2 separate regions of the Homo sapiens genome follow, and region 2 is linked to region 1. The links come from fine-mapping of genetic effects on plasma protein levels. Region 1 holds a variant in brackets. A gene starts in the other region. All regions are shown on their reverse strands.

The links. PIP is the chance, under the fine-mapping model, that this variant and not a neighbour inherited with it causes the effect. The UK Biobank Pharma Proteomics Project read protein levels with antibody pairs (Olink). The fine-mapping took linkage between variants from a reference panel, not from the people measured, so its PIPs are less certain.
Region 2: it holds the start of FUCA1, and the variant in region 1 is fine-mapped to the plasma level of the FUCA1 protein (UK Biobank, PIP above 0.99).

What each region holds. Positions count from the first base shown.
Region 1 is chr4:6,597,091-6,599,590 of GRCh38, reverse strand. MAN2B2 (mannosidase alpha class 2B member 2) reads right to left here. Exons shown (of 19, transcript NM_015274.3): 8 at 2,288-2,478; 9 at 1,237-1,393. Among named protein-coding and RNA genes, the nearest start is that of MAN2B2, 23 kb to the right of the region's middle. The variant G/T (reference allele first, on the strand shown) is at 1,390.
Region 2 is chr1:23,866,954-23,869,962 of GRCh38, reverse strand. FUCA1 (alpha-L-fucosidase 1) reads left to right here and starts at 1,673. Exons shown (of 8, transcript NM_000147.5): 1 at 1,673-2,065. The coding sequence starts at 1,677. RefSeq lists a silencer at 2,042-2,261.

The sequences.
Region 1 (2,500 bases):
CCTGGGTTCACGCCATTCTCCTGCCTCAGCCCCTGAGTAGCTGGGACTACAGGCGCCCGCCACCACACCCGGCTCATTTTTTTGGTATTTTTAGTAGAGACAGGTTTTCACCGTGTTAGCCAGGATGGTCTCGATCTCCTGACCTCGTAATCCACCCGCCTCGGCCTCCCAAAGTGCTGGGATTACAGGTGTGAGCCACCATGCCTGGCCAGATAGCAGCATTTTGACAGACCAAGGTGGGAGGACCACTTGAGCCCAGGAGTTAGGAGACCATCCTGGCAACATGGTGAGACCCTGTCTCTCCAAAAAAAATAAAAATAAAACAATAAGCCAGGTGTGGTAGTGCATGCCTGTAGTCCCAGCTACTTGGGAGGCTGAGGCAGGAGGATCGCTCAAGCCCAGGAGTCTAAGGCAGCAGTGACCTATGACTGGCACCACTGCACTCCAGCCTAGGTGACACAGCGAGACCCTGTCTCAAAAAACAAAAAACAAGAAGGAAGTGCAAGATGACCAGGTGCAGGCTGTGGGTGGGACCTGGCGGCCTATGCACACAAAAGTCTCATGCGGGCGGAGGGCCGCCAACCTGTCTTCATTTGTCCAGGATCTTCCCAGTTTGGAAACCCCTCAGTCCCAGGCACACTGGCATGTGATCAGTCACTCTACACGTGGGAAAACTCACAGTCAAAGAGGCTGGTCCCACGGCTGCCCTGCTGTGATGTCAGCCAAGTGGAGTTCGGGAGGGAGTGCCAGGAGCCAGGAAGGGACCGGGCCCCTGAGGACACCGGCGTACTCTCTGCCAAGGCTGGGCAGCACCGTGTTCAGGTTCAATCCCTGCTCTGCTCCTTCCTACCCGAGTGGCCCTGGGCTAGCATATAACTTGAGTCCGTTTCCTCGGCTGTAAAATGAGGACAGTAACCATTCCTATTTTGTACAGATTTTGTGAGGCATTAAATTCAATACTGCATGAAGGGTATTTTGAGCTTAGTAAATGCTCAAAACATGTTAGCTGCTATTTCTGGCTCTTCTTGTAACATCAGCAACCCTTCCTCATTGCACGGATGAGCAAACAGAGGCTGGGAGGACTGAAGCCACCTGTCCGAGCTCTCACCATGGGGAAGGGCGATATGGGTGATGTGGACTCAGAGTCTGAAGCTGGGGTCGTTGAGCCCCTCCCCTGACCTCCTCAGGCTCTCCCTTCATAAAGGGGCCACAGCCTCCCTGCAGGGCCCTGCTCACCGGAGCTGGCCGCCATGGGTGCCTGGGGCTGGAGCTCATCTAGGACGATGGAGGCCATCAGCTTGCGCATGCCCAGCATCCCCGAGGCCAGGTGCGTTGCGTACATGTCTCTCACCTTGGGGGACTCAGTCCCAGTGATGGCATCATGGTGCT[G/T]GACCTGCAGCAACCCCCAGAGGGGAGGAAGAACAGGATCAGGACCTGACTCTGCAAAGCACCTACAAGGCACCTACTAGGCGCTGGCTCTCATTCTGGCTTGCCAGGTGCCAGTGGAGAAGGGGGCAGTCCCCGCCATTTTACAGAAGGAGGAACTGAGGCCAAGAGAAGCTGAGGAGCTCGCCCAACTTTTCCTGCCCTTGTGGGAACTCATTGTCCCCCATCTCTGGACCCCCTGCTCTGAAGGACCCTGAAGTCACCTCATTTCTCCCACAACATAATGACATGTTCTGCCAGCAGCTCCTTTTGGGGAACTGTTACAGTGTCATGGCTGGTGTGACCCTTTTTTGGATAGGTGACTGAGGACAAGTTACAGGCTGTCTTGGGTCTGTTTTCCCATCAGTACAGTAGGGGATGGGTGGAGACGGAAACTCATGAACTGGCTATTCAGCAGCCACTGCACCAAGCAGGCTGTGCACACCAGCACATCCAATTGCCCCACCGTCCTCCTGGGCAAGCTCGTTGTTCTCATTGTACAGGAGGGAATTAGGTCTTGGGTGGGTGTGGGAATCATGTGCCTGACATCACACAGCTGAGCCGAGATATGGATGCAGGCAGGGCTGTCGGACACAAATGCCACTCCACCTTGTCCTTTATCCCTTTTGCTAAACTGCTACAAAGCTTAATGAGGCCACCAGCTGGATGGATCAGGCTGTGGTCTCAGCCTTGGCCTGGGTTCACCATGCACTGGCCTTGTAACCAAAGGGAACCTCAGTTTCCCCTCTGTAAAGTGGGGCCTCTAGTGCCCCAGGGCTGGAAGGATTGGCTAGGACAAGGGAGGGGAGGTGCGCAGCATGGGAGGTTCCAATCCTGCCACTGTGGCTAAATGTGGTGTTACCTCGGAGACGGCCCAGCGAAGCTGCTGGAGCTGCTGCAGGGCCCAGGTGGGGTCCAGATGCCCACGGGGGGCCGGCCACAGGTAGCGTGTGAACATGGACTCCCCGGCATACAACAAGGCGCTGGCTCGCCGGGCCAGCCCCTTCAGTGAGCTGCGGGACGTGTAGAAGCCCGTCCAGGCCTGGAATGGTTCTGGGAGACAAGGGAAGATGGT
Region 2 (3,009 bases), not on the chromosome of region 1:
AAAGGCATAGATTTTGCACCTGGAGACACGTATTCTAGTCCCACCTCTGACTCAAACTAGCTGCATGATCTTGGGCAGCCCCCCAGCCCTCTCTGGGCTTCAGTTCCCTCCTCGGTACAATGGGAAGGGTAGGGAAGAGGATGGTGCCTAGGATCTTCAAAGTCCCAACTCTGATGTGCTGCCATTCTCTCACTGGCATGTGGGAACTGAGTGTGCTACGTGGAGTCATGAGACTTCTTCTTCCTTTTCTTTTTCTTTTTTTTTTTTTTTTTTTTTGAGACCGAGTCTCACTCTGTCGCCCAGGCTGGAGTGCAGTGGTGCGATCTCGGCTCACTGTAACCTCCACCTCCCGAGTTCAAGCAATTCTCCTGCCTCAGCCTCCTGAGTAGCTGGGATTACAGGCGCACCCCATGCCCGGCTAATTTTTGTATTTTTAGTAGAGATGGGGTTTCACCATGTTGGCCAGGCTGGTCTCAAACTCCCGACCTCAGGTGATCTGCCCACCTCGGCCTCCCAAAGTGCTGGGATTACAGGCGTGAGCCACCTTGTCTGTTCAGAGACTTCTGACTTCCGTATTTCCCTCGCTAATGGCCTCACCTCCCGTTTGAGTATGTGCAGCATGTGCAAATTGCAGAGGAACTGGGGAACTTCCCTGCCAGGCAATCCTGGGTCCTCTTGGCTCTCCACTTCCTCCTTCCTTCCTTCCTTCCTCCTTCCTTCCTTCCTTCCTTCCTTTCTTTCTTCCTTGGTCTGGCTCTGTCGCCCAGGGGCTGGAGTGCAGTGGCGGTATCTCGGTACAAACTAAGCTATTTGAAATGCCTCGGAATTCCCAAAGAAAGCTCAGTAAATACCAGACAGATGAAACGGTCCTGCCCGCTCTCCCTCTTTCAGTACCCAGTTTTCTCTTTCCTCTCCTTTCATAACGTTTCTTCCCATCATCCCTCTACCTCCTTATTTCTGTCAGGGCTGTTAGATACCCTTCCGGTCTGTTATCTCCTCCTCCAGCCTTGTGCTACAGGACAACTCAAAAGCCCCCTATGGCTCCCAAGTGATCACTAAATAAAACTCGTGATCTCACTTCAGCCTACCCCTGCAGGATTGCTGCGGCAAAATGGACTACTCCCAGAGGCGTGATCACGGTTCGGTTCACTGCAGCCCAGACTTCCCGGGCTCAAGCGATCCCGAACCTCCCACCTCAGCCTCTCGAGTAGCTGGGACTCCAGACGTGCACCACTACGCCAGGCTCATTTTGTTTATTTTTTATAGAGACAGGCTAGTCTCCAACTTGTGGGCTCAGAGCGATCCTCCCGCCTCGACTTCCGAAAGTGTTAGGATTACAGGCGTGAGCCACTGCGTCCGGCTCAATGGACTCCTTCTTAAATGTGAGTTCTCCGCACACACTGGGCCTTGCTCACCTCCACGATTTAACCTCGCAGTTAAGTCCCTTTTCAAGGTTTTTATTCGTCCTTCAGCGAAGCGCTGTCAACGCCTCCCTGCGTCTTTCCCTTCTTGAGCACCAGAGGGCGCTCCTCCGACCCGAGGAGGAAGCGACTCGGGCCAACCTGTCCAGGTTGTCCCACCCCTTTTTCCTTCCGGGCCAATCGTTAGTCAGAGTGGGCGGAGCCGCCCGCGGGCACCTGCGCGTTAAGAGTGGGCCGCGTCGCTGAGGGGTAGCGATGCGGGCTCCGGGGATGAGGTCGCGGCCGGCGGGTCCCGCGCTGTTGCTGCTGCTGCTCTTCCTCGGAGCGGCCGAGTCGGTGCGTCGGGCCCAGCCTCCGCGCCGCTACACCCCAGACTGGCCGAGCCTGGATTCTCGGCCGCTGCCGGCCTGGTTCGACGAAGCCAAGTTCGGGGTGTTCATCCACTGGGGCGTGTTCTCGGTGCCCGCCTGGGGCAGCGAGTGGTTCTGGTGGCACTGGCAGGGCGAGGGGCGGCCGCAGTACCAGCGCTTCATGCGCGACAACTACCCGCCCGGCTTCAGCTACGCCGACTTCGGACCGCAGTTCACTGCGCGCTTCTTCCACCCGGAGGAGTGGGCCGACCTCTTCCAGGCCGCGGGCGCCAAGTGAGTGTGGTCCCGGGGAGCGGCGCCCCTTCCCGGCTCGGGCGGCAAACAGGAGGTGGGGCTGGGCGGCCAGCTGGGGCGCGCAGCTGCCGGTCGCCCCCATGACCCCGGGGCCCGCGTGTGGCCTCCTGCGGCCACAGGAGTGAGCCTGGCACACCTGATGAGGAGGAGGAGGTGCGTTTGACTGGGGACTGATAAATGAAGGTTCAGGGAGATGGCAGGCTGGGAAGCCCTGGGTATCTGCACCTGTGCACCGAGAGGGCTGAGTTAGGCCATACCTGATGTCCCTTTCAGATTGACAGCACTATCAGGACTCCAGGGTTTCAAATCAGTGGTGTGGAGCCTGGTTCTAATTCAACTGTGAACCTGGACATGTCACTTCAGCCTCCCTGCAGCCTCTTCTATGGTTGTAGAAAGGGGTTATATAAGGATACAACCCTTTGAGCCCTAATGTCTCTAAGAGGGAAAGAGAGGGGAGTTCTGGTGTGCAGTGTATTTGGGCAACAGTACAGATAGTCATTCGTTTGCTCCTCTCAATCCCTTTTACGTAGGAAGTGTCCAGGAAGGGTCTGACTCTCTCTGAGAACTGTTGGAACTTGGGGGTGGCTGGTTCAGAGAACAGAGTAGAGAGCGCTGGGGTGGGGATAAGGGGAGACCACGACCCATGAAGTTGTCAAGGCAGGGGCTTGTCCTGAAGGAGTGAGCCTTGAGAGCCCTGTATTGACAGATGTTAAGTCAGGGAGTGGTTACTATCAGCTTCTAGAAAGATTCATTCGGCTGCTGGGAGAGAAGTGGGTTGGAGAAGAGTAAAAATGGAGGCGGGGAGGTTTCCCCAGCCCCTGGCTTAGAGCAGTCTTCCATCCTTACCTTGGTTCCTCAGCCATCTTCCGGGTTTTCGTTTCTCTTGAACTTTGAATTCACTTGTACTAAAGAGAAGTTACAAC